Homo sapiens: one gene and its partners. The protein of the gene in region 3 interacts with the protein of the main gene of each other region in a biochemical or structural test. Each region holds a gene or a part of one and is shown on either strand. Other genes may lie near its edges.

The links.
Region 1: the proteins of MSH5 (region 3) and MLH3 form a complex in vitro, tested with the Homo sapiens proteins (one study listed by BioGRID).
Region 2: the proteins of MSH5 (region 3) and ABL1 form a complex in vitro, tested with the Homo sapiens proteins (one study listed by BioGRID).
Region 4: the proteins of MSH5 (region 3) and MSH4 form a complex in vitro, tested with the Homo sapiens proteins (2 studies listed by BioGRID).

The regions. Positions count from the first base shown.
Region 1 is NC_000014.9:75,013,468-75,020,492, reverse strand, and holds the end of MLH3 (DNA mismatch repair protein Mlh3), read left to right. Parts: intron 1-1,512; coding exon 1,513-1,664; intron 1,665-3,291; coding exon 3,292-3,411; 3' UTR 3,412-6,718; downstream 6,719-7,025. UniProt on the Homo sapiens protein: Probably involved in the repair of mismatches in DNA.
Region 2 is NC_000009.12:130,873,229-130,880,253, reverse strand, and holds part of ABL1 (tyrosine-protein kinase ABL1), read right to left. Parts: intron 5,387-7,025; coding exon 5,202-5,386; intron 1,840-5,201; coding exon 1,687-1,839; intron 187-1,686; coding exon 97-186; intron 1-96. UniProt on the Homo sapiens protein: Non-receptor tyrosine-protein kinase that plays a role in many key processes linked to cell growth and survival such as cytoskeleton remodeling in response to extracellular stimuli, cell motility and adhesion, receptor endocytosis, autophagy, DNA damage response and apoptosis.
Region 3 is NC_000006.12:31,735,473-31,743,024, reverse strand, and holds the start of MSH5 (mutS protein homolog 5), read right to left. Parts: upstream 3,021-7,552; 5' UTR 2,963-3,020; exon of another isoform or gene 2,805-2,962; intron 2,572-2,804; 5' UTR 2,559-2,571; coding exon 2,412-2,558; intron 1,863-2,411; coding exon 1,739-1,862; intron 149-1,738; coding exon 68-148; intron 1-67. Other genes in the region: CLIC1 (chloride intracellular channel protein 1), read left to right, coding at 6,725-6,763.
Region 4 is NC_000001.11:75,904,878-75,911,902, reverse strand, and holds part of MSH4 (mutS protein homolog 4), read right to left. Parts: intron 1-7,025. UniProt on the Homo sapiens protein: Involved in meiotic recombination. Required for reciprocal recombination and proper segregation of homologous chromosomes at meiosis.

The DNA of each region.
Region 1 (7,025 bases), on a different chromosome or scaffold from region 3:
CTTCGGTCCGTCTGATTCAGTCTGTCTGGCTCCTCCCTCATTTTTGCCACTGTTGAGCTCTCTTACTTAGTTCTTCACATCCACTCTGGCTCCCTTTCAAGCTGCTCTTCTCTCAGCACCCAGAGGAATCTTTTTGAAACATCCCTCCAAGCATGTTGTTCTTCTAACTAAAATGTGTCAATGATGACCCATTGCTCTTGGGATAGAAATGTGATTTTTTACTGTGGCCCACAAGGGTCTTCGTGATTTGGCCCCTGCCTGCCTCTCCAGTGTCACGTCATATCACTCTCCACCTTGTTCTTTACATCCCAGCCTGCTTTTTTGGTCTTCTGCTTCCTGTGTGCTAAACATTTGTCAGCGTCGGGGCCTCTGCACTGGCCTTCTCCTCTACCTGAAACACTTTTCTCTCCTTCTTCAATTAGCCACGTCTTTCTTAACCTAAAGTCTCAGCTTGAATACTACTTTGCCAGGAAAGCCTTCCTTAAGCTCCTAAACTGGGTTTGGTCTTCCTATTATATATTCATATCCTGTATTTTATAGCACCTATATTTATCATTTAAATTATTGTATAATTATCTGCTTCATGTTTGTCTCCCCTATTAGACCATAAGCGCCATGAGGATGGAAATTATCTGTCTCACTAACTGCCTGACAAAGCTCCCAATACAAAGTATATACTTAATAAATATTTGTTGACTGGGTAAATTGTGCATAAAGGCAGGTTATAACAATATGAGAGTTTAGATTAGGAAGATTATTATGGAAATTAGAAAAAAAGAAGCAAATAAAATGAACATTGTAAGGAAACAATCAGAGATTGCTATTGGACGATCCATGGAGAAAGATAACCCCAACTTCACAAACCCATAAAGAGTAGGCAAAAATACTGCTCTTGCCTCTTGGAGAAAAACTCTGAAAGCCAGATCCTAACAAGTTAAGGAATGCCTCCTACAGAGATTAGAAATACAAATACTCCGTAAGAAAAAGCTGAGAGACAGAAGGTCAGTCCTGAAGCCTTAGTTTCATCCATGGTCATAAGCACTAATTTATTTCCCTCTTTTTTTTTTTTTTTTTTTTTTTTTGAGAACGGAGTCTCGCTTTGTTGCCCAGGCTGGAGTGCAGTGGCGTGATCTCGGCTCACTGCAACCCCCGCCTCCTGGGTTCAAGTGATTCTTCTGCCTCAGCCTCCCAAGTAGCTGGGACTATAGGCGCGTGCCACCACACCCGGCTAATTTTTGTATTTTTAGTAGAGGCGGGATTTCACCATATTGGCCAGGCTGGTCTTGAACTCCTGACCTCATGATCTGCCCGCCTCAGCCTCCCAAAGTGCTGGGATTACAGGTGTGAGACACCATGCCCGGCCTATAAGCACCAATTTCAAGCAGGATTAAAGCTTCATTAAAGAAGCCTAAGAAACATGTTACTTTTTCCAGATATTTGGCAGTGACCCAAGGTCAGCATTGGTTTCCCACTATATACACTATAACCTTCTTGTTTCTGTCTTTCATTTAGGGGCCATTAAGTTTAATGATGGCCTGAGCTTACAGGAAAGTTGCCGCCTTATTGAAGCTCTGTCCTCATGCCAGCTGCCATTCCAGTGTGCTCACGGGAGACCTTCTATGCTGCCGTTAGCTGACATAGACCACTTGGAACAGGAAAAACAGGTACATTAATGACTAACAGGAGCAGGAGGGAGCAAAGTTTATTTTCTCTTTCTTTTCTGGCTTTTACTATGCAACTGTAATCTGTCTTAACCTTTCCAAAATAGGAGAGTTTTGCAAAATCTGCACTGGAAGTTTCACATAAAGCCTCACCCATTTCATTTTCCAGCTCAAATCCAAAATGGAACTTAGACTGAACTGTCAGGTCACCTACATAATGGCTTTGTATTTTAAAACTTAACACATGTACAGACTTATGTACCCTGAATATCTATTGCCTGCTGGCTCTAGGTTTCATAATATGCAGTTCTTTCTGAAGCTACTGAAAGTTGGTAGAAGCACAGCAAATTCACTGTTGGCAATATAGAGCCTCAACTTCCAGTTTCTTGATAGTACCTGCTGGAAACGGTGATCTGTGACTGTAGCTGGCCATCCCCAAGGATCTTGAGTTATGGTTTGAGGATCATCAGACAGGGACCCAAGCTTGGGGATCTCTACATTATGCTTTGGCCCTAATTACCCAGCAACCTGCAAACTACAATGTGGATAATGCAGAAAAGGCACAGAATGGCTTAAATGAAGAACTTCTGTCCTTGTTATAATCTTCAGTGAAGGAGAACATGGAGAACATAACAGGAATGTCCCTGTTGCTGCTTTCCAAAATCTTTCCTTTTTTTTTGTTTTTTGAGACGGAGTTTTGCTGTTGTTGCGCAGGCTGGAGTGCAATGGTGCGATCTTGGCTCACCGCAACCTCTGCCTCCCGGGTTCAAGCAATTCTCCTGCCTCAGCCTCCCGAGTAGCTGGGATTACAGGCATGCGCCACCACGCCCGGCTAATTCTGTATTTTTAGTAGAGACAGCGTTTCTCCATGTTGGTCAGGCTGGTCTCGAACTCCCGACCTCAGGTGAACTGTCCACCTTGGCCTCCCAAAGTGCTGGGATTATAGGCATGAGCCACTGCGCCCTGCCCAAAATCTTTTCTTTTGCTAACCTTTCCCTGCTAAGGGATATAAAATCTTTTCTTGCATGGAGTTTTCAGGTACTAATGTTGTCTGACTCAACTAGCTGATTTTACTTCATTAAAACCTCTTTGTTTCACAAAGAAAAATATGAAGAAAGTTTTTCTCCATTGCTGAGAGCTGGGAATCTAGACTTAAAGTTCTGAGTCCCCTTGGATCCTTAAAACAATCTGTAATCTCTATTGAATCCAGAAGTTAGAAATCTAAACAGATTATAACAGCCAGACTTTGGAAATATTTGTATGCTACCTACATTTTCAATTTTTTTTTTTTGAGACGGAGTCTCACTCTGTCGCCCAGGCTGGAGTGCAGTGGCATGATCTTGGCTCACCACAACCTCCGCCTCCCAGGTTCAATCAATTCTCCTGCCTCAGCCTCCTGAGTAGCTGGGATTATAGGCATGCGCCACCACACCCGGCTAATTTTTTTTTGTATTTTTAGTAGAGACAGGGTTTCACCATATTGGCCAGGCTGGTCTCAAACTCCTGACCTTGTGATCCGCCTGCCTTGGCCTCCCAGAGTGCTGGGATTACAGGTGTGAGTCACCTCGCCCAGCCTGTATGCTACCTACCTTTTCATATTGCTAATTGAAGTTATTCTTTCTTCCCATAGATTAAACCCAACCTCACTAAACTTCGCAAAATGGCCCAGGCCTGGCGTCTCTTTGGAAAAGCAGAGTGTGATACAAGGCAGAGCCTGCAGCAATCCATGCCTCCCTGTGAGCCACCATGAGAACAGAATCACTGGTCTAAAAGGAACAAAGGGATGTTCACTGTATGCCTCTGAGCAGAGAGCAGCAGCAGCAGGTACCAGCACGGCCCTGACTGAATCAGCCCAGTGTCCCTGAGCAGCTTAGACAGCAGGGCTCTCTGTATCAGTCTTTCTTGAGCAGATGATTCCCCTAGTTGAGTAGCCAGATGAAATTCAAGCCTAAAGACAATTCATTCATTTGCATCCATGGGCACAGAAGGTTGCTATATAGTATCTACCTTTTGCTACTTATTTAATGATAAAATTTAATGACAGTTTGATTGGTTGCTTGGTTTGTTATTTGAAGGGTGTGATTTTTGTTTTTGTACAGTTTTTTTTCAAGCTTCACATTTGCGTGTATCTAATTCAGCTGATGCTCAAGTCCAAGGGGTAGTCTGCCTTCCCAGGCTGCCCCCAGGGTTTCTGCACTGGTCCCCTCTTTTCCCTTCAGTCTTCTTCACTTCCCTATGCTGCTGCTTCATGTGCTACATCTCAGACTTAAAGAGTTTCTCTACTACAGTGAAAACATTCTCTAGGGTCTTTCATCAGGCCTTTAGTTATTTTAGGGATAAAAACTATTGATAAAAAGGACAAGGATAGAACAGAGAAAATTTAAAGTCCTGTTCCGGGTTTTTTGTTATGTTTTCTTTAAAAACTCAGAGACTGATGTTCAATATCCCAAACCAGTAAAATGGTGAAAATACTATGAGCTTGTTTTTTAAAATATGATTTTTTTTGGTACTTTATAAAGTATCTCTTTATGTGAAAGCAATTGTCATATCAAAACACAGCATACATACGTTCAACCTAACCAAATATCTTTACACTTTTTCTTTCAGGAGACAAGGGTTCTTTGGGTCCCTTTCAAACGGTATCTTGGTGTTATTACATTATGCCTATCTATTGCCCTTATAATATCACTTGGGACCAGGACTGATCGTTCTGCAAATGCTTGTTATGCCATTCTCAATCTATTTTTCCCGCACCTTTTCACATGATTTGTGGTTAATAGGACTCAACAGACTAAAATTGCATAGTAGAAAAAAAATGCAAAAAGCCAGCTGGTAATGTTTATTGCAACTGGGGTGCTATACAATTAGTAAGATGATGCAATGAGAATTTCTACTTTTGTATTTCCTGACCAGCCTGCTCAAAGTGGCTTTTATATCAATTGAATGATTTTCCTCATTTTTTAATACAGGAAACCAATTCGTGCTCATGGAAGAAAAGTTCCTTTGCCAGCAGCCTTGAAGTGAATCTTACAGGAGCAATGAAAGTATTGCATTCATTAGCGTCTGCCCCAGAGAAGGTTCAGAGAAAACCTTCACTTGTTTTCAAGGGGATCCTTGTAGATTTACGTAATTGGAATCCTGAAGAACAGGCCCTACTGTCTAAAAAATGGCTTTTATTCTTCTAAATACATATAAACGGATGTTTTATAGATGGGAAGACATGACCTTAGAAAGGAGAGAGTTTTCAGAGGATTTGCCAGGCTGTCAGGGGCTCTGCCTCCAGGCCCAGTGTGGCAGTGTGGCCTCAGGGCCTCCGCCTCCCTGCTTGAGGGCTGCATGGAGGCCAACTGTCCTGGGAGTTGTAAAAATCTTTTAAGGCCAGACCAATTTGAGGGATTTTAAAAAGTGTCTCAGTGCCTCTTATGATTTCAGAAGGTTTTGCTATATGTAATCCCAACTACTGTTTTCTTGAGAGTAGCAGAGGATTAGAAAAAGTCCTCCATAAATTATGTAACCGGCCTTCCTGACTAGCCTGACTCAAGCAATGTAAGAGATAATTATTCTGTTTTCATAATTTATAAGTGTGGGGGCATGCCTCAGCATAAAAACAACCTATTAGGGAAAAATATCTAATAGATTACCTTTATCGCCTGTTAGGGTTTTATGTTGTTTTTAACTCAGATGCCATAAGAACAAAGATACATGTAATTTATAATAGTAATCATTAATACCTATATTGTGCTTTAAGGTTTACAAAATAATTTTTCTCATACTTTATCTTAGTTTAGTTTCTTGACAGTCCATGAGGTAAGGTGGTAGCTTTATCACCATTTTACAAAGTGGGAAACGAAGGTTCCTCTTAGGAACCTAGTTGTCACCTTTGTATAATAAAACTTCGAAGCTCGGAGCTGTTAACTGGTTTGCTGAAGGCTTAGCTGTAAGAGCCAGAATTCAGACCCAGGTCTGAGTGACTTCAAACTGCACAGTCCTTCCCATTATTACCCATATGCTATCCCTTATATTTTTAATTTATTAGGAATTCATTCATTTATAAACTTGGTGATTCACCTTTATTAGATTCTGGTCGCTGAAGGCTTTAGTAACTTCAGAGTAAAACTTGAGAGATGAGATGTAAAATGCAGCCATTCTTGAGAGTTCCTTTTTCTGTAACATTCATCAACACTTCATTGAGAAGTGAAGGTTCCTATGGCTGTCTCTACCTTCAAGAGGCTTAGCTTTAGTCACTGAGAAAGACAAGGAAACTAATGATAGAATATAGTAGCTTCTTCTGGCGTTAGGTATCACAGAGTCACAGCTAGTTACAGCTAGCCCTTTATTATTGAAAGAAGAGGAGCTAGCAGTCCCACTATCAGAATTAAGACTAGAGATGGTAATAGGAGCTAGTATCAGAAAAGCTTAAGGCAAAGCATAAAGTGTAGGCTAGAATGAAGCTGGAGAATGGGGAGGGGGCTTGGGTAACATCCAGAACCTGGCTGGGGACCTGGAACTACATGAGATGTAAGAATGGAGAGGTTCTAGCAGTCAGAGGTCAGGTACAAATGAACAGCTGGGATCTGCGCATGGCAGACAGTGAAAAAACCCAGGCAAGCAAAATGGTCAGAGCAGAAAGGGGCCCAAGGCCACGTTCTTGAGATGTGGAGGGGGCTGAGGAAGCCACGCCAAGTAAGGACAGATGCAGCTCAGCAGTTCCTAGCGAGCCCTGACAAGCCAGCTCAGCTGAAGCTTCGGGTGGGAGCCAGTCATGGCACAGTGGAGTGAAGGAAGAGCAGTTTCAGGCACCCAAAACCTGACCCCCACGACCTGTTTTCCACCTGAAGAGCCACCCATTCCATCCAAACCCTTGGCAAAAGTCTGCTAACAGAGAGAACCGGCCAGTATGCTGGCCAGTCGCGATCATGCCTGTCTTTACCCTCTAAGCTGAAGCTGCTCATCAACGGTGAGATGGCAAAAAGGTGGGTCCAGAAGAGGGGAAAAGAAGGGAGTCTGTGAAAACAAAATGCTGAAGAATCTGCATCAAATAAACCCTTCCTTCCTTCCTTTTTCCTTCCATCCCTCTCTTCATTCAGCAAATCTTCAGTGAGTTCCTTTCTAAATGTATTGTATCAGAACTTGTGGGGGATATAAAGAAAAAAAAGAGGTTATCACATGGCTTAGGATGTTTCCAACCCTTGGATCATTTTCACCCCAGGCCCATTAGTTACAGAGCACTCAGTCTTACCCAGAAGCATCGGATATAGTCCAGGCAACCGGATCCAAGCGTGTGGGAATCGCAGTGTGCTGCATGTGGGAATCTATCAGGCCAGGATGATTCAAGCAGCAGCCTGCAGAAGTGGGATTTGGCCA
Region 2 (7,025 bases), on a different chromosome or scaffold from region 3:
GAACTTTCACCAGGAAGTGAACCGAATGACCCAGGCTGCAGTCCCACATGGCTGCCCTTTCACCCCACTGCAGGTACCCCGGGATGGGTACTTTACCGTCTGAGATACTGGATTCCTGGAACATTGTTTCAAAGGCTTGGTGGATTTCAGCAAAGGAGGGCCGGTCAGAGGGATTCCACTGCCAACCTGGACAGATGAAACCCAAGTCAGATCATCCATGAGATCTGGCTAGCAATACGGGGCTAGCAGTTCTCAAGGAAAAGTCTAGAATGAAAGCAACATTCCAATCCTGCTAACCATCTTTTGCTGCAACAAGTCAAAACGATGAATGTCATCATGTCCTGTTATAGACATTAAGAATTTGAAAAGACGTTAGATGCTGGCAGGAATATGGATTGTAAAACCCCAGAGAGACAGTGACAGCAAGAACTGCATTTACAAATATATTTTTCCCAGTCCCGCTCTAGTAGGTGTAGAAAATTACTAAGCCAAACAGCTCACCTTCTATCTTGTTCTTTCTTCACGGTTATCAAAGTCTGAAGTAAAGAAATTCTCATGAAAATGAGACTAACATGAGGACTAAACAGACTGACAAAGCCTAGTACTGGGGACCAGGAACAGTCACTCCCATATGCGTCTGACTGGAGCATACAATGGCACAACCTTTTTTAACAGTTTGGTAAAATGTATCAAAATTTAAAACCCACACAGTTCTTGGAACCAACAGTTCAACTTTTAGAAATACCAGCCAAAGTGCCCAGAGATTCGTGTACATGAATATTTGTTTCTGCTTTGTTTATAAGGGCAAAAACCAAACAAATGTGTAAAACAACCAAATGCACATCAAAAGAGGACCGGATGAATGAGTGAAATGGAGTACTGGGCAGCTATACATAAATAAGAGGTAGGGAGAGGGAGAGATCTGAATATATGGACGTGGAAAGACATGTGTGGGAAAACAGTGTAAGAAATGGCCATATAAATACCTTATAAGATATATGAAAACATCCTGTGTGTGCATAGTACAGATAACACATATGTAATCAGTATAAAACGACCAGATAAAAATCACCTCGCAGCTGGGCGTGGTGGCTCACGCCTGTAATCGCAGCACTTTGGGAGGCCGAGGCAGGCAGATCACCTGAGGTTGGGAGTTGGAGACCAGCCTGACTAACATGGAGAAACCCCATCTCTACTAAAAATACAAAATTAGCCGGGCGTGGTGGTGCATGCCTGTAATCCCAGCTACTTGGGAGGCTGAGGCAGGAGAATCGCTTGAACCAGGGAGGTGGAGGTTGAAGTGAGCCAACATTGCGCCATTGTACTCCAGCCTGGGCGACAAGAGCGAAACTCCGTCTCAAAAAAAAAAAAAAAAAAAATCACCTCATGAGCTTAGCTACTATAGCAGAATGTCTGTGAAAGCAGGGCCCAGGAATCTGTATTTAGGAATACACCCAGGTTTGGTATCTATCAATACCATTTTTGCTTTAAAAGACAAGTCACGCACATACTATTTATCTGTAAATAAAGGTCAATAGGTAGCAAATGGCTACATTAGCTGCATCTGAAGAACTGGAATGGAGAGAGCTCATGGAAAAACTTTCAACTTTGTGTACACACTCCTGCACAGTTGAATTTCCTGGAATGCCCACATATACTCGTGAGAACAGGCTGAGGAAGGCTTACATGCTCGCATGAGTTCATAGACCTTCTCTGGGCAGCCTTCTGGGCGCTCCATGCGGTAGTCCTTCTCTAGCAGCTCATACACCTGGGACAGGTCAATTCCCGGGTAAGGGGACATGCCATAGGTAGCAATTTCCCAAAGCAATACTCCAAATGCTGAAAGAAAACCGAAAGAGAAAGGCTGTTCAAGATGTGTAGCATTTCACTACACTACATTTAAAATCAGTTACCTTTGCAGCAGACCTCAGAAGGGATGGCCCCAGCAGCAGCCCAGGCTCTGACATTTTACCAGGCTCTTTATCATCAGAAGACCAGGACAAGGCTGGGTGCGGTGGCTCACGCCTGTAATCCCAGCACTTTGGGAGGCTGAAGTGGGAGGATTATTTGAGGTCAGGAATTCAAGACCACCCTGGCCAACATGGCGAAACCCCATCTCTACTAAAAATACAAAAATTAGGGGCCGGGCACGGTGGCTCACACCTGTAATCCCAGCACTTTGGGAGGCCGAGGCGGGCGGATCACGAGGTCAGGAGATTGAGACCATCCTGGCTAACATGGTGAAACCCTGTCTCTACTAAAAATACAAAAAAATTAGCCGGGCGTGGTGGTAGATGCCTATAGTCCCAGCTACTCGGGAGGCTGAGGCAGGAGAATGGTGTGAACCCAGGAGGTGGAGCTTGCAGTGAGCCAAGATCAAGATCGCGCCACTGCACTCCAGGCTGGGTGACAGAGCGAGACTCCATCTCAAAAAAAAAAAAAAAATTTAGCCAGGTGTGGTGGTGTACGCCAGTAGTCCTGGCTACTTTGGAGGCTGAGGCAGGAGAATTGCTTGAACCCAGGAGACGGAGGTTGTAGTGAGCTGATATTGCTCCACTGCACGCCAGCCTGGGCGACAGAGCAAGACCCCGTCTCAAAAATAAAAAAAAAAAAAGGAGACCAGGACAGAACAAGACTCAGTAAACTTACCCCACAAACATGCTAGAGGAGGGCAGATGATGAGTTTCAGACCCTGTGGGGTCTTTTAGGTAATGTGACCATCTTGCTGGGATATGTGGTAGAAGGAACCTGGCGCCGGAAGTCAGCTGGCCATGTTAACTCTTAGCTCTGTGACCAACCAGCTCTGTGCCTAACCGGCCACCACTGCTTTCTGGGTGCACAAGACTATCTCCAAAGCCCCTTCTAACTCTAAACATTTCATAAAAATCTTATGAAATCTTTGAAAGTTTTGAAATCTGAGATTATTGCCTTAAAATTCCATTTCCCATTAAAGGATAAGATTCCTTAGAGAAATGGGTGATTCAGGCCTGGGGCACAGAATGAACCTGCAATAGCTTGTCATTTGAGGGCGCGGACGTCATGGAAAACTACAAAGTTAATGTCAAAATGACTAGGAGCTAATGTGAAGTTCCCACTGGCCAAAGACGAGACAATCTGAATATCAACAGGGAAAATAACCGCAGTGGACTGAAACACATCAGATATATATAAATCTGAGAGTTCATAATACCACCAATGACAGCAAAAACCTAATTGGCCACCACTGAAGGGTATTAAGAAACTAACTTGTGCACTTTGGGAGGCCAAGGTGGGCGGATCACGAAGTCCGGAGATCGAGACCATCCTGGCTAACGCAGTGAAACCCCGTCTCTACAAAAATAGAAAAAAAATTGGCCGAGTGTGGCGGCGGGCGCCTATAGTCTCAGCTACTCGGGAGGCTGAGGCAGGAGAATGACGTGAACCCGGAAGGCGGAGCTTGCAGTGAGCTGAGATCATGCCACTGCACTCCAGCCTGGGCGACAGAGTGAGACTGTCTCAAAAAAAAAAAAAAAAAAAAAAAGAAACCAACTTGTGGCAGGGCATGGTGGCTCACGCCTGTAATCCCAGCACTTTGGGAGGCCAAGGCAGGTGGACTGCCTGAGCTCAGAAGTTCAAGGCCAGCCTGGGCAACATGGTGAAACCCCATCTTTACTAAAAATACAAAAAAATTTAGCCAGGCGTGGTGGCAGGCACCTGTAATCCCAGCTACTTGGGAGGCTGAGGCAGAAGAATTGCTTGAATCTGGTAGGCGGAGGTTGCAGTGAGCCGAGATCATGCTACTGAACTCCAGCCTGTACTTTGTACCCCAGAAAAAGCAAGACTCTGGCTCCAAAAAAAAAAAAGAAAAAGTAATTTGTTATTTTAAAAACTGGTAAATAAAAACAAAGAAGCAAGAATTGACCCTGCTCTTCCTACATGAACTGTACCACTGAGTAACCACACAGATGAGGAACTGTTTCTCCTCATACAAGTTTCCACTAGTAACTTAACAGGAATGACAGAATTAGAGAATTCCTACCTGGCAATACCTAGCAAACTATTGGATCTAGGCACTGTATATCAGTAACTGCCAAAAATTACTCAAAAAAAAACCCCCACAAAAAAACGATAGCAAATCAAGCATTTTGGGGCCAGGCGTGGTGGCTCACGCCTGTAATCCCAGCACTTTGGGAGGCCGAGGTGGGTGGATCACGAAGTCAGGAGTTGGAGACCATCCTGGCCAACATGGTAAAACCCCGTCTCTACTAAAAATACAAAAATTAGCCGGGGGTGGTGGCATGCGCCTATAATCCCAGCTACTCAGGAGGCTGAGGCAGGAGAATCGCTTGAAACCAGAAGGCAGAGGTTGCAGTGAGCCAAGATCGTGCCACTGCACTCCAGCCTGGGCAACAAGAGCGAAACTCCGTCGGAAGGAGAAGGAGAAGAGAGGAGGGGAGGGAGAGGGGAGGAAAGGAAGGAAGGAAATAAATGAAGCATTTTGTATCTACTGATGGAAGGGCACACCATCTCCCCTGATCCACTCTTACTAAAAGAGAAACAGTCAAACCTGAATGTGATGAGGCCGTTCCAGATCCAGCCACCCATTACTAGGAATACTGAAGTCAGAGGAACATATTAAATCACACCATGGGAGACAATGAGCAAAACCCAGAACGTACGAAACTCTAAGGATGGTTTCTTCAATAAACAGCAAGGGAAATAAAGACATGGAGAGGGGGCTTATAGAGGAGACTTAACAGATCAGCAGATACACTGTGCACCATATTTGGACCTCAGGCCAAATACACAGTTAAAAAAAAAAAAAAAAGGGTGGCTGTGCACAGTGGCTCACACCTGTAATCCCAGCACTTTGGGAGGCCAAGGCAGGCAGATCACCTGAGGTCAGGAGTTCTAGACCAGCCTGGCCAACATGGTGAAACCCCATCTCTACTAAAAATACCAAAAATTAGCTGGGTGTGGTGGCGGGTGCCTATAATCCCAGCTACTCAAGATGCTGAGACAGGAGAATCGCTTGAACCCGGGAGGGAGAGGCTGCAATGAGCCAAGATTGCACCACTGCACTCCAGCCTGGGTGACAGAGTGAGACTCCGTCTCAAAAAAACAAAAAGAAAGGAAGAAAAGAAAGGGAAGAGCAAGAAAGAGGCAGAAAAAAACCCTCCTGTAGTCAGGAAGGACCACTTCAGTGCAGCAGCAGCCCTTACCCCAGACGTCGGACTTGATGGAGAACTTGTTGTAGGCCAGGCTCTCGGGTGCAGTCCATTTGATGGGGAACTTGGCTCCAGCATGGGCTGTGTAGGTGTCCCCTGTCATCAACCTGCTCAGGCCAAAATCAGCTACCTTCACCAAGTGGTTCTCCCCTACCAGGCAGTTTCGGGCAGCAAGATCTCTAAGAAAGGAAAATGTTCACCCATGAGAGCTCCTGGCCAACCTTCCACTTCACAAATCCACCACTGCTGAGCAAAGGTGCAATGCTGACAATGGAAAGATTGAGTCCAATGCCCTGGAAGTTTGTATTAATGCCCACGGCAATTAACACAGTGCCAGCCTCTCAGCAAACACACCCTGAGATCCCAACATGGGGAGAGGCTGGTGCTGGGAGCGGGCTCCCTGGCCTCATGACCTGGAGCAAGTTAATTACCCTGGGACTCAGTTACCTCATCCGTAAAATGAAGACGATAATAATGGCACCTACCTCTTAGGGTTGCTGTGAGTGTAATTAATTAATATGCTAAGTGCTTTGATTGAAGTGTCGAGAATAGTAAGTGCAGTTATTGCTACTCTATGCCAGGCACGGAGACAAACACTGAGCCCAGTCCTTGATTGCAAGAAACTTCTATCAGAGTGCATCTCCACTTGTCCTATTCAGACTTGATGGGACAAAATAAAACAAAGCCCATGGCATTCTTTACCCAAACTGTGTTTCCTACTTCCCTCTTTCTTCCTGAGGTGTACCCAAATGTATCCTAAAAAACTCTCTCCTGTATAATCTGCTTCCTCTCACTTCCTGATTCTCCCAGGGAGGTAGGAGTCTAATCTTTGGTTCATGAACATTAACCATGAAATCACAAGGCAAACGGGAAGAGCGGAATGAGAGGGGGCAGCAGCTTGAGGTGATGGCTGCGTGAGATAGCCTGATCGTCAGCAACAAGAGTGAAATTAAATACAGAAGAGTTGTGCCTAAGAGGATTTTGATAAAGCATTTTAAGTTCGCTTGAATGAAGAAGGAACGGACCCGGCCGTGCCAGGCAAACCAGAAGTCAAGCAATCTCAATTTGCAGCATCAGAGGATTCACTTTCCTGAAAGCCAGGAGTATCTGGATCAGGCTCTCATGGAGCATAGAAAATCTGTCTTACAAGGAGCCGCCAGCATTTCACACATGCTACCCTTATTCCTTGCTATGAAATCTCATGTAGAGGTTTCATACTTGAGCTAATTGGGTAGGAAAGGTCACAGTGGTGGTGTGGAGAACATCTCGTATAAAAGACGCCAGCAAAGCCCATCAGGCTCTGTCCTGCACAGGCCGTCGCTTTGCTGGGAAGCCATTTCCACCAGCAAAGAATTTGAAGACCAAGATAATTGTGGCACATTTGAAGGTCAAAACACTTCAGGGTTTAAAACAGCAAAGACACTTAATTTAGACCTCCACATACACAATTCTGACAATTGTGGAAACATCCCTGAATCAGAGGACAGCAAGTTAAGTGGAGAATGAAAAGATAATAAAGAGAAAGCAGGAAAAAAAGACACACACACTAAAAAACAAAAGCCATGTACTGGTTGTTCCCATGAGTTTGCGTAAAAGCAATGCCAGCGGCTCCCAGGAAGAGGCCATTACTGCTGGGCGCTGGCCCCGGAGGAACAATGAGTACTCTCTTTCAGAGGGGACTGTGATTATTAGGAAGGACGCCTTTTATGAACTTCATTTAATATTCCACTTAGCCCAAAATGGTTCAAAAATGAAATATTCCTTACTCCGGGGATTAGCTGCTCCACTGGTCCAGAGTCTAGGCCTGGCTGAATTTAG
Region 3 (7,552 bases):
AGCCCCCTGGAATATTCCATATATTAGTCCTTCCCCATTTTCCCTCTATCCTTTACCAAGTCCTTACCAAGCTTTCCCAGAAATCGAGTCATATTCTCATCCTGTTTGGCACTCGTAACAACAGACTGGGGATTGATCTCATCCAGAACTTGGAAGGAGAACAGAGATCAAATGAGTTAAAGGATCTTTGTCTTTGACTAAGAGAAAACCCATAGCCCTCCTCTTCCTACCCCTCTCCTTCTCAAAAACATTTCCTCCCTAGGAGTAGGGAGTGCTCTGCACAGTGGGAACACAGGTAGAAGTTGAGATTTAGAAAAGTAGTTAAGAGTGGTGGGATGGTGAGAGGGAAGTGGGATGTTCTGGATGTTGTCACTAGGCTGTAAACCCCTGGAGAACAGACATGACTGATTTGCCCAGGGCTGAATCTGAAGCACCTGAAACATTGTAAATACGTCATATATATTTGTGGCCAGGCACAGTGGCTCATGCCTATAATCCCTGCCCTTTGGGAGGCCAAGGCAGGCAGATCACTGGAGGCCAGGAGCTCAAGACAAGCCTAGCCAACGTGGTGAAACCCTGCCTCTACTAAAAATATAAAAATTAGCCAGGCGTGATGGCAGATTCTTGTAATCCCAGCTACTCGGGAGACTGAGGCAGGAGAATTGCTTGAATCCGGGAGACGGAGGTTGCAGTGAGCCAAGATGGCACCACTACACTTCCAGCCTGAGTGACGGAGCAAGACACTGTCTCAAAAAAGAACAACCAAACAAACCAAAAAACAGCCTCACAAATATTTGTTAAATAATGAAATGAATTCATAAAAACAAAAGAGGGAGCCTCTGTGAAGCAACTGTAAAATATATTGAGTCAGTGCTATAGTTTGGATGTGATTTGTCCCTGCCAAATATCGTGTTGAAATTTAATCCCCAGTGTGATAGTGTTGTGAGGTAGGGCCTAGCAGGAGGTGTGTGGGTGATGGGAGTGGATCGCTCATGAACAGATTAATGCCCTTCCTGGAGTGTGTTGGTGGGTATGAGTGAGAGGTTCTCACTCTATTAGTTCCTGAGAGAGCTGGTTGTCAAAAAGAGCCTGGCATCTCCCTCCCCCTTGCTTCTTCTCTGCCATGTGACCTCTACACACCCTGCCTTCCCTTCTTCCATGAGTTGAAGCAGTCTGAGGCTCTCACCAGTGAAGATGCCCAATTTTGAGCTTTCCAACCATCCAGAACCATAAGCCAAATAAAACTTTTTTTTTTTTTTTAACAAATTACTCAGAGTCAGGTATTTCCTTACAGCAACACAAAATATGCTAGACAGTGAGGTGAGTTAATGTAAGTAAAACATGGCTGGGCGTGGTGACTCACACCTGTAGTCCCAGCACTTTAGGAGGCCAAGGTGGGCGGATCACAAGGTCAGGAGTTTGAGACCACCCTGGCCAACATGGTGAAACACCGTCTGTGCTAAAAACACACACAAAAAACTAGCTGGGTGTGGTGGCACACGCCTGTAGTCCCAGCTACTCGGGAGGTTGAGTCAGGAGAATTGCTTGAACCCAGGAGGTGGAGGCTGCAGTGAGCCAAGATTGCGCCACTGCACTTGAGCCTGGGTAACAGAGCAAGACTCTGTCTAGAAAAAAAAAATATGTGTGTGTGTGTGTGTGTGTGTGTGTGTGTGTGTGTGTGTGTGTGTAACACATCTGCAATCCCAGAGAGCAGAGGAATTCATGGTTCCATCCCCACCTCTCTGGAGAAGCTTGAGGCTCTCGTGGTCTGGGGCATCTGGCATGAAGTGGATAGTGGAGTCACTAGTATCATAGTAGGCAATGCCCAAGTATCCTGAATTCCACAGCACACACAGATGGATCTGTCCAGCAAGGAAGAAAGGAAATCACTATTAGAATCACTCATAAGTGTAGGGTTTACCATGTCTTATATAATTTAATCATTTTCTCAAATCTCTGAGATAGGCATCATCACCCCCATTTAGTGAATGTGAAACAGCCACTCAGGAGGTAAGAGACTTGCCCAGCTCTTCCCAACCCTGTTTTTTTTTTCTTTCTTTCTTTGAGACGGAGTCTTGCTCTGTCGCCCAGGCTGAAGTGCAGTGGAGCAATCTCAGCTCATTGCAACCTCCGCCTCCCGAGTTACAGTGATTCTCCTGCCTCAGCCTTCCCAGTAGCTGGGATAACAGGCACGTGCCACCACGCTCGGCTAATTTTTATATTTTTAGTAGAGACGGGGTTTCGCCATGTTGCCCAGGCTGGTCTCCAACTCCTGAGCTCAGGTGATCCGCCCGCCTCAGTCTCCCAAAGTGCTAAGATTACAGGTGTGAGCCACCGCGCCCGGCTCCCAACCCTCTTTTATTCTAACTTCCCATCAACTCTCCATTCAAGTTTCTACTCCCCTCAGAGACCTCGGCCAGCTCCTCCTCCTCCTCGACTTCCTCCTCCTCGGCCTCCCTGGGGCCCGGCACTGGGGCCGGGCTGGGGAAGCCGGAGGAGGCCGCCCCAGGTCTCGGTCCCTGCGGTGTCCTCCTTGGGTTCGCTCCTAAGGAGGCCATGAGCTTGGAGGCTCTGCGGATGCAAAAAGTGAGGGCGGTTCGGAAGCAACGATTCACAGAGGAGGCCGGGGTAGGGTGGCGCGCAGAATGCAAAGCACTAAGTACTTCTGCTACAGGGCTGCGGGGCAGGGCTGAGGGGCGTGGAGAGCTGTGGACACAGGAGGTGAATTCTCGGGTATTTAACTAAAGTACAGATTGTGGGAAACTCCACGCGCCCCACCCTCATTCCTGTCACGCGGAGGTTACCCTTTGGAAGGAAGGGGTCTGAGGGCCCTGTGGGGCGAGTCGTGCACGTCTTATGTCTCTGCCTCTGCCAACCACGCGCCAGGACCCCAGCCTCACGCGCTTATCTTCCTCCTCCCCCAGCTGCCGCCATCGCAGCGTTTTCCCGCCTTTTCAGTAACCTGAGTCGCTACAGGTGGGAGAACGCCCCGCTGACCGACCGCCACGAGCCTGCAAAAGGAGCGCGCCGGCGCGTGAGCGAGGTGCGCGCGCACGCGCCCCGCCCTCCTAACCGCTGTTGATTGGAGAGGCCCGGATCCAGCCTAGAGATCCGACAGGGCGAGGAGGAGAAGCGGACTGCCGTAGCTGAAGAGTCTGGACGCTGATTGGCCTATTTGCCTTCGGGGCGGGTCCAGAACGTTCAAACTTCCCGCCCTCTGCCGTTGCTTAGCAGCCGGGCCTCTAGCACTCACTGTTTCTGGGATTTGATTGGCGCAGTGGGAAGCCCGCGAGAAGGTCGGACCAGGGTCCGTAGTCCCAGTCCCTGGAAGGGGTTTGGGACCGTTGCGGGGGTTTTGAGGGGGAGGCCAAACTTAAAGAGCCAGAGGCGCTTATTTTTTTTCCTGCAACAACTCTTAAGTTAATATTTGTACCCTCTGAGTTAATATTTATACAGAGCTTAGAACAGTGCCTGGCAAACAAAGTAAGACCTAAATGAGCGGTGTTTCAAATAAATAAGCGGAAACAAGCAGGACTTCTGTCTCAGCCCTACCGTGCCTGTTTCCTGGGTACAGGGTATGACCACCCCCATAATGGCACGACAGGGCCTAATTTATTATTTAAACCCTTCAAGCAGAGGTGGAAGCATTCGAATTACATCAAATTCTGGCAGAGAGAAGTAGTTCTGATCAGAACACTCACACCCCTACTGGGACATGCCCATACCCCTTCGCACTTCTACACACCCCTGAAGACAGAGAGGTATCTATCATTCATGCATTCGGCAACTATTTAGTGCCTATTTTGGGCCAGGGGTTGGACTCAAAGCGGTGAACATAATGAAGTCACTGCTCCATAAAGCTTATTTGTGCGTCTGTGTGTGTGTGTGTGTGTGTGTGTGTGTGTGTGTGTGTTGCGGGGGTGGGGTTATGAGGGAGAAAGAAAAAAAATATATATATATATATATATAATCCCTTTAAATGCACCATCCTCCCCAGCTTTGTTCCTAGTACCCTGAGATGGGGAGATTCCTCCCCAGCCCCCCAACCCAAGAAGTTAGGAAAGATGGTGGGGGTGAGATGACCTAGCTGTGCTAACCAGTAATTGGAAAATCCCCTCCAGCAAGAAAGGTGGGGGAACAGAGTTAAGGGCTGGGTTAATGGTTACCCCTGGCAAATCTGTTGAGCAATGGAGCTATAGAAACTTGGAGGAGGTTGGTGACAGCTCTGGGGAGTGTCAGGGAGGGACCCACCTTCCAATCTGGGGTGTGAAGAGATTAGGGACTAGTTTACCAAGCCCAGGAAGGGGAGGGAGTGGAAAGAGAAGCCCAGAGAGGGAAAGAGGAGCTACTGAGATAGGAGAAATGCAGGGACAGGGAGGTGAGATGGAGGGAAACCTCTGTTGCAGGATTTGGGGGTACAGCCCTGGCTCTGCTGGATGGTTCCAGGAGAGGGCAGCGTTGCCTGTCACCTGGTAAATTAAGGCACGATACCCTGTGGGTAGTCATGCCAGCCAGCCAAAGTCAATATTGATATCAAGGCAGCTGTAGCTATAAAGCTGTAGGAGAGAAAAGAGAGGCCGGGAGAGGCTGCCAAACCTGTTTGATCTTCAAGCTGGCCCCATTTACCTAAGGCTTCTCTTGGACACAGACCAGTTGGAACAGGAGAGGACCCTGAGAAGTAGAGTTGTTTTGATCCCCTCCCCTCAATGGGAAGGGGTCCTGTGTGCAGATTTTGAGGGTCACCATGAGGGAATTCACACCCACACAGAGGCATGGAATCATACCCTTACAGGATGTTACAGTTCAAGGGAACGAACACCAAAGATAGCCTTTCTGTCGGGAGGAGAGAAAAAGGCCCTCCCACAAGCAGGAGAAAACCCACAGAAGAGGAAGCACAAGAGGAAACCACCAACTGCTGGTTTCCAGCAGCACATCACGTCACTCCACCCCACTCCTCCCCCAAGTCTCTCCCTTTCTTTAAGTTTCAAGCTCTGTTTTAGTTCTGTGTTCTTGCACTCCACCATGGTTTTCTGGAACTGTAGGTCTTTTGTTGGACAGAGGGTGATGAGGAGGATAGAGAAGGGATGGTTGGACAGGAGAGAAATTCAGGATATGGAGGCTGGAATTCTGGGTTTATTTTTTCAGCAGGTCATAAAGGTTTAATAGAAATCAAGGTTACTGGAGAGAGAGCTGCTCCTCCTATGTCCTCCCTGCTTATTTATTTAGGTGTCCCCAAGGACTCTACTCCCACTATTCTGTCTGATCTTTCTTTATCCCCATGACAGGACCAGCTAACAACACCCCTACCCCACCCCCTATACACATACTTCAGGATCGGGCCATGATAATCCCACCCCTCTGCCCCATCTCCAAGGCAACCTGTCAGTGAGACGAGGACAAAGGGCACAGGAAGGGGCCCCAATAGGAAACATAAGTGGAAGCACAAAGCTGACCAAGCTACAGGAACAGACCCCTCCCTGCAACAAAGCCCCTTGCCTCGGCTTTATGTTTCCTTCGCAAAAGACTTCGTCATCTCCCTTCCCATCCCTAACTCTACTTTCTTTTTCTTTTCTTCTTCTTCTTTTTTTTTTTTTTTTTTTGAGATGGAGTTTCGCTCTTATTGCCCAGGCTGGAGTGCAATGGCACCATCTCAGCTCACTGCAACCTTCACCTCCCGGGTTCAATTGATTCTCCTGCCTCAGCCTCCCAAGTAGCTGGGATTACAGGTGCCCACCACCCCGCCTGGCAAATTTTTGTATTTTTAGTAGAGACAGGGTTTCACCATGTTGGCCAGTCTGGTCTTGACTCCCTGACCTCAGGTGATCCACCCCCCTTGGCCTCCTAAAGTGTTGGGATTACAGGCGTGAGCCACCTCACCCGGCCCCTAACTCTATTTCCTATGCCCAATCCCAAGTGTAGGCCACAAGGACTGCAAGTCCTAGTGCTGAGCTGGGCCCGGAGACAGTAGACTGCGGGGGGCACAGGACCTACTGAGACACCAGTCTGGGCAGCTCAGGGAGTGCTGGCGTCACCCCTTCCCTAATCCCAGGCTGCATGGCTAACGGTTCCTATCTGCAGTCCCAGCCTTCCACTTCCGAGTTCTTCTCTCAGACCACAGTCCCAGCAACCCAGAATTTGGATTGGAGTCTGGAAGAAATGCAGAATGATTAAACGACCACCTTTCCATTTGAAGTCCCCATCCCTGAATCTTCACGGGTGTGCCCAAGCTGTTAGTGTCAAGTTTTTTATATGAGGGTCAGTCGGGTTGTACTCAGATTAATGAAGCAGGGAAACTGAGGCAGAAAAGAGTCCTGTGTTCAGGAGAGGTCGGAGAAACAAGGAGGTTTTCAGGACTCCTCCTTAACACCCCCATCCCCATCCTGTGGGAGATCCGAGGATTCCCCTTCCGGACTCACTCCCTACATCGTCGAGTCCCGCCCCCCTCCAGTCCCCTCCCCAGGTTCAGGGCGGGGCCGGTCGGTGAGTCAGCGGCTCTCTGATCCAGCCCGGGAGAGGACCGAGCTGGAGGAGCTGGGTGTGGGGTGCGTTGGGCTGGTGGGGAGGCCTAGTTTGGGTGCAAGTAGGTCTGATTGAGCTTGTGTTGTGCTGAAGGGACAGCCCTGGGTCTAGGGGAGAGAGTCCCTGAGTGTGAGACCCGCCTTCCCCGGTCCCAGCCCCTCCCAGTTCCCCCAGGGACGGCCACTTCCTGGTCCCCGACGCAACCATGGCTGAAGAACAACCGCAGGTCGAATTGTTCGTGAAGGTAAGAACACTTCTCTCCTCAGCCACCCAAATTCCTGGAAGCCAACTCTCACCTTTCCCCCGGTCCAGCCTTAACTCCCCAATCCCTTCCCTCCTTGACTCCCACCCCCAATCCCACGTGCACTCTTTGGTTGAGGGGTGGTTTTGAGAGGGGAAGACATTAACTTGTTAGCAAGTAATGAGAATTCTAGGATCAACCCTGAAAAGTTTGTAAAAGTGCAAGTTTCTAGCAGACTAAAGGAAGGGAAGTGGAGAAAAAGGAGAATTCCCAAAAGTGAGACTGGGGTGGGGTTAGAGGGCGAGCTGGTGAAGGGACAGTGGGGGCCCAGCAGGGTTTAGAAGGGACAGAGGGGAACCTCAGTTAGGACATGTGTCCCTACAAGATCTGAGGGTGAGTAGTGCAGTAGGAGAGGTGTGTGTGTGTGTGTGTGTGTGTGTGTGTGTGTGTGTGTGTGGATGGAGACGCTTCAGGGAAGACGGTGTGTTGAGGGAGGCCTGAGAGTGAGAGCAAGTAAATTGGGAAGCTTTGGAGGGGCGGAACAAAACAGGAGACTGGGATCGGAGTTTGAAAAGCAGAGCTGGAGAGGTGATCGGGTGGCATTGAATATCCCCAGGACTGGGGAAAGGGACAGAAGGGGAGGTGGCAAGAAGACGTGAGTTTAACGTAGCTACCACAAGGATGGGTGGGAGAGAGATCAGACGGAGGAGAAGAGCTCGGTTAGGGCATTTTGGGATTTGGGGGTTGGAGAAGTAGAAGACTTGCCCCAACTCTCTCCTCTCTCTGCGGGTG
Region 4 (7,025 bases), on a different chromosome or scaffold from region 3:
TTAACTTTTTATGGAAAGTCTTAGTGAGTTTCCCTGAAATATAATCCCTTCAACTCATAATAGCAAGCAACTCCAGATTTTTTTTTACTTTTCACTATAGGAAAAATGAGTAAGATTTTATGAGGTAGAATAAGATTACCATATATTCACCCATCTATCTATTTGGTACACAGATCAATTACCAATTAGTCTATTATTTTAAGAAAGTTATTGAATATCTACTATCATCTATGTTCCAGGCCTCTAAGCTTACGTTTATATATCTATGGGGGATACAAAAATGTAAACCTCACATGATAACAGAACTCAAGGAGCTTACAGTCTTAATGGTTAAAAAAACAAAAGGCTTGTTGTAAGCAACTGATTATAATAATTAAGAAAAGTCCCATAAAACAGCCATAAAATACTCAGAGGAAGGGAAACTCACTTCCAGCTCAGGCCAAGAAAAGCTTGAATAGGATGGAGTATTGAAATTAATCCTGATAGATAAAACAGCCTAGAAGAGGGGGTATTCCACAGAGGAAACAGTTAGAGCAGGTACATTTGAAAGCATGGTACACAATCAGGTCAATATGATGAAATGGCAAGTAATTCAATGTAGTAATGACAAGTAATTTAATTTACAAGATTGAAATTGCAGAAATGTAGATTACGTGAAACCGAGTGATATTATGTAAGGGAGGTGTAGAAAACAAAGGAAAATCATGAAGCAGAAGCCAATAAGCTTTACAATCACGTAAAAACTGGTTAAGAAGGCAAATCCCTGAGCCACAGAAGATCCTTGACAATCTAGTATGGTACCCTGTATCTCAGGCAATTCTAATGCAGGTAATTCTAAAATATATTTTGAGAATTACAGAGGACTTTTTACACTAGACAAAGGAGTTCAACTTTACTTTGTAATAAATCATTAAAAGTTTCTGAGTAGGCAAACTACATAATAAAAACTATGCATTAGGAGACAATCTGGTAGAAGTGTATATAAATAGATTGAGAGAGAGAGAGAACTTACTGCATAGTCCTAATGACAGGTGATTAAGAGGAATGATCCATATATGACTTTGGTGAGTCACTGGGAGACTTAAAGGTGAAGAGATAAGAGTTTTTTTTAGAAGATGATAAATTTAACTTTGGCTTTTAAACATAGATTAAGATATGTAGGAGAAATATGGAGAAAAATATATAGATTCAGAGTTGAACAGAAATGATGATGGACGCTGTGAGAAAAGATGAGATCACCAAGTGCAGATTTTAGAAAGAAAAGAAACAAGGGCAAAAATCTTAGAAACTTTTATATTTAGTAAGTGGAATAAGAAAAAGTAATGATGATGGCTGGGTGCGGTGGTTCATGCCTGTAATCCCAGCACTTTGGGAGGAAGAGGCGGGTGGAATGCTTGAGCCCAGGAATTTGTTAAAAACCAGGCTGGGCAACACAGTGAGACCTTGTTTCAAAAAAAAGAAAAAAAAAGAAAAGAAAAAGTACTAGTGAAGAAGGGACAGAAGAAATAATCAAACAGGTAGGAGAATGAAAATATCCAGGAGAGAATAATTCCACATAGCCAAGAGAGGGCAGAATTAAGAAAAGAGAAAACAAGGGTAGTGTCAAGTGCCATAGAGAGATCATGGAAGATCAGAAGTGAAAAGAAGGACAAAGGATTTTATAATTAGTTGGTATTTAAGAGAAAACTTTGGGGAGAGTGATGACAATAAGACTCAGTTTAAACATGAGAAATGAAAGAAGCAAGCATGGGTTACTTTTGATAAGTTTGCAGTAAAAAGAAAATGAAATAATAGTTTGAAAAGTAGAGTAAACAGGCAGAATTTTAGGGGAGAAATCTAAGCATACTCTTAGAAAAAGGAAAAGCCTGTGACGAAAATATTAAAGATGCAAAAGAGAATAAAGGGAACTGAGAAGTAATAATAACTTAGTGGAGATTTTTTTAAAAGGTAGAATAGTTAACCTTCTGTCTGAAAGTCAGTCTCTTCCTCTGAGATAAGATGGAAGAGAGATGGAAGAAAAACAGAAATATTCAAAACAAAATTTTGAAGGAGGGGAGGTTCAAGAACTCATCAAGATGACCTCAAATTTGTTAAAAAGTAGGAGGCAGATTATCTGTAGAAAGTGAAGTGATTGAGAGTACAGGAAGAGTGAAACTGTTTCAAAAGAGTTATCGTAAAAGAAGCTAAATAATAAATAAAAAGAAAAAAATACAATTCTCATCACATACCATGGCCTGTCAGCGGGGGGAGGGGGTGGGAGGCAAAGGGAGGGATAGCATTAGGACAAATATCTAATGCATGCGGGACTTAAAACCTAGATGACGGGTTGATGGGTGCAGCAAACCACCATGGCACATGTAAACCTATGTAACAAACCTGCACGTTCTGCACGTGTATCCCAGAACTTAAAGTATATACTAAAAAAAAAAAAATACAATTCTGGATATCAACAAAATGGCAGAGTAGAAGCAGTCTGCCTTTGCTCTCCCCACAGAGAACCAAAAGCAAATATCTGGAGCACAGATTAACACCAGCAACATTTTAGAAGCCAAATCTGAGGCTGAAATGATAGTTGGGAGACAGAGAAGTGAAAAACTCTGAGCAGACTATAAAAAGAAAGAAAGTTCTCTATCTGCAATGTCCGTGCCCCAATCTGCCAGGCATCATGCACAGAAAATTCCTCCCAATCTCATTTGTTCTACTCTGGAAAAAGTGAGATTGAGGTGGATAGCCAGCTTCCCCACCATCCTGGGTTCCCTTGCAGAAAAATCATTCCTGCCTAAACCCACAGGAAGCACCACTAGTGCCTGGAGGGAGAAAACCGCCTGAGGGCAGCTAGAGACAAAAAGGGGAGTGGAATTAGAAACTCCAGCCTGTAAAACTACTCCTCATTTCAGTCGAAGGAGACACCAAATCAGTGTGGATGTACAGCAGCACCATGCTAGAGGAAGCAGATGCCACAGGTCATCTGGGTATAAACCCCTAGCCAGCCTTTCCACACAGCTGAGGTATCCCCTCTAAGAACCCTACCATCTGAGATGTGTAGTACTGCAAACATTTGCCAGAGCTGAGGAAATTCTGGGCTTAAGGTGCCATCTAGTGCTGAAAATGAGGCAGCAATCTAGGATTAAGGGGAATCACAGACAATTGCAAAGAACTTCTAAGCAAACATACAACCTAGAAAGTCCAACAAGCGAGACACTGAAGATAAACTGATCCTTCATTGCAAAAACATAGATATATATCCACAAGGAACAAGAGCAAACAGGAAACTATGATCTCCCCAAATGAACAAAGCAAGGAGCTGGTGATCAACATCGTGGTGAGATGGTGATACGTGAGCTCTAAGATCAAGAATTCAAAATAGCAGTTTTAAGAAAATTCATGAACTCTAAAACAGCACAGAAAAAGCAACTGATAAATTTATCAGAGAAATTTAATAAAGAGATTAAAGTTTGGCCGGGCACATTGGCTCACGCCTGTAATCCCAATACTTTGGAAGGCCAAGGTGGGCAGATCATTTGAGGTCAGGAGTTTGAGACCAGCATGGCCAACACAGTGAAACTCCATTTCTACTAAAAATACAAAAATTAGCCAGGCATGGTGGTGCACACCTGTAATCCCAGCTACACAGGAGGCTGAGGCAGCAGAATTTCTTGAACCCAGGAGGCAGAGGTTGCAGTGAGCTGAGATCACACCACTGCACTCCAGCCTGGGTGACAGAGCCAGACTCTGTCTCAAAAAAAAAAAAAAACAGATGAAAGTTTTTAAAAATCAAATGGCAAACAGATTTGAAACCCTGGAACTGAGAAATACATTTGTTGAACTTAAAAAAACTACAGAGGCTCTCCAAAAAAGAAATAGATCAAGCAGAAGAAAGAATCAGTGAGATTAGCCAGGCACAGTGGCTCATGCCTATAATACCAGCACTCTGGGAGACTGAGGCAGGCAGATCACTTCAGCCTAGGAGTTAGAGACCAGCCTGGCCAACATGGTGAAACCCCGTCTCACTAAAAAAATTAGACAGGCACGGTGGCACATGCCTGTAATTCCAGCTACTTGGGTAGCTGAGGCACAAGAAATACTTGAATCCAAGAAGCGGAGGTTGCAGTAAGCCAAGATATAGTCAGAGGGAAAAAAAAACAGAATGAAAGGAATAAAGACAGCCTGAAAGATTTTATACATATATATATATATATATATATATATATATGTATAGAGAGAGAGAGAGAGAGAGAGAGATACACCGTGGAAGAGCAAATCTAAGATTCACTGGTGTTCAAGAGAGAATTGAGAAAGAGCAAAGAGTAGAATGCCTATTTAAAGGAATAAAATGGAAAACCTACTAAACCTAGAGAAATATGTTAATATCTAGGTACAAGAGGTCACAGAACACCAAATATATTCATCCCAAATAAGACAAGCCAAATGATATAATAATCAAACTCTCAAAGGTCAAGGACAAAGAGAATCCTAAAAGCAGCAAGAGAAAAGAAGCAAATAACATATAAAGCAGCTCCAATTCATCTGGCAACAGACTTCTCAACAAAAACCATATAGATCAGGAGGGAGTGGAATAACAGATTCAAAGTGCTGAAGGGAAAAAAACTGCAAACTGAGAATACTATACCTAGCAAAACTTTCCTTCAAACATGAAGGAGAGAAAAAGTCTTTTCTAGACAAACAAAAGCTGAGGAAATGCATCATTACTAGACCCATATTATAAGAAATGTTAAAGGGAGCTCTTAAATCTGAAAGGAAAGAATGCTAACATGCAAAAGACAAACAAACAAACAAACTTGAAGTTTAAATGTAAGTACATAAATTCAGAATACTCTAATACTATAAATGTGATGTGTAATCTACTCATATCTCTAACATAAAGACTATAAGACACATTTATTAGCTGGGCGTGGTGGTGGGCGCCTGTAGTCCCAGCTACTCAGGAGGCTGAGGCAGGAGAATGGTGCGAACCCAGGAGGCAGAGCTTGCAGTGAGCCAAGATCGCGCCACTGCACTGCAGCCTGGGCAAGAGAGTGAGACTCAATCTCAAAAAAAAAAGAAAAAAAAAAAGACACGTTTATGAAAATAGTAACTACAGACACCTTTAAAGAAATAGACAATATAAGAAGGTGTAAATTGAGACAAGAAAAAATCAAAATGTCAGGGGAATGAAGTTAAAGTACGGAGTGTTTCAGTTTTTCCATTGTTTGTTACTTTCTTCTCTCTATGGTCAAAACTAAGTAGTTATCTGTTTAAAATAAAGTGTTATAGCTATAAAATATTTTATAAGCCTCATGAAAATCATAAATTAAAATATATATATTTAAATTTATATAATATATAATATATTATATATTATATATATTATATATAATATATACATATTATATATTATATATATATAATATATAATATGTATATATTATATATAATATATATAATATTGTATATATATTATATATATTAAAAATATAAAGCAATGAATTAAAACATACTACCAGAAAAAATTACTTAATCAAAAAGGAAGAAAGAGAGCACTTACAAAACAACCAGATAACAAGTAACAAAATGGTAGCAGTAAGTCTTTATCAGTAATAGTATTGAATGTAAATGTCCTAAATTCTCCAATTAAAAGACATAAGAGTGTCTAAATGGATTAAAAAAACAAGACTTAAAAAAACAGGAGTTCAAGACCAGCATGGACAACATGGTGAAACCCTGTCTCTATTAGAAATACAAAAATTAGCTGGGTGTACAGGCGGGTGCCTGTAATCCCAGCTACTTGGGAGGCTGAGGCAGAAGAATCGCTTGAACCTGGGAGGTGGAGGTTGCAGTGAACTGAGATCAAGCCACTGTACTCCAGCCTGGGTGACAGAGCAAAACTCTGCCTCAAAAAAAATAAAAGAAATAAAATAAGATCTAACTGTATGATGCTAACTAGAAACTCACTTCACCTACAAAGTCATACTAGACTAAAAGTAAAGGGATGGAAGAAGATATTCCAGATAAATAAAAACCAAAAAAGAGCAGGAGTAGCTATGTTTATATCAGATAAGATAGACTTCAAGTCAAAGACTGTAAAAAGAGACAAAGAATGTTATTCTATAATAATAAAGGGGTCAATTCAGCAAGAGGACATAACAATTATAAATATATATTCACCCAACAGTGGACCATCCAAATATGTAAAGCAAAAATTCATAGATATAAAGAGAAATATAGACTGCAATACAATACTAGTAGGGGTCTTCAACATTCCATTCTCAGTAATGGCCAGATCATCCAAACAGAAAATCAACAATTAAACACTGAAGTTAAACTACACTCTAGACTGCCTGGACCTCACTGACATTTGCAGAACATTTCATCCAACTGCTGCAGAATACAAATTCTTCTCATCATCACATGAAACAGTCTCCAGGATAAACAATACATTAGGCCACAAAACAAGTGTCAATAAATTCAAAAATGTCGAAACCCTATGAAGTATATTTTATTCCACAATGGAATAAAACTAGAAATCAATAACAGAATGAACTTTTGGAAACTATATATATAAATACATGGAAAATAAACAACATGCCCCTGAACAATCAATGGGTCAATAACGACATTAAAAAGAAAAATTTAAAAATTCTTGAAAAAAATACATGACATACTAAAATCTATGACATACAGCAACATATTGCTAAGAGAAACGTTTATAGCAATAAACACCTACAACAAAAAAGTAGAAACATTTAAAAAAAAACAACAACAACCTAACGTGGTACTTCTCAAAGCTAGGAAAGCAAAAACAACAAGCCAAACCTAAAATTGGTAGAAGAAAAGAAATAATAGAGATCAAAGCAGAAATAAATGAAGTTGAAACTAAAATAAATACAAAAGACAAACAAATCTTTACTAGACCAACTAAAAAGAGAGAAGACCCAAATAAAATCAGAAATGAAAAAGGAGACATAACAATTGATACCACAGAAATACAAAGGATCATTAGAGACTATTGTAAACAACTATATGCC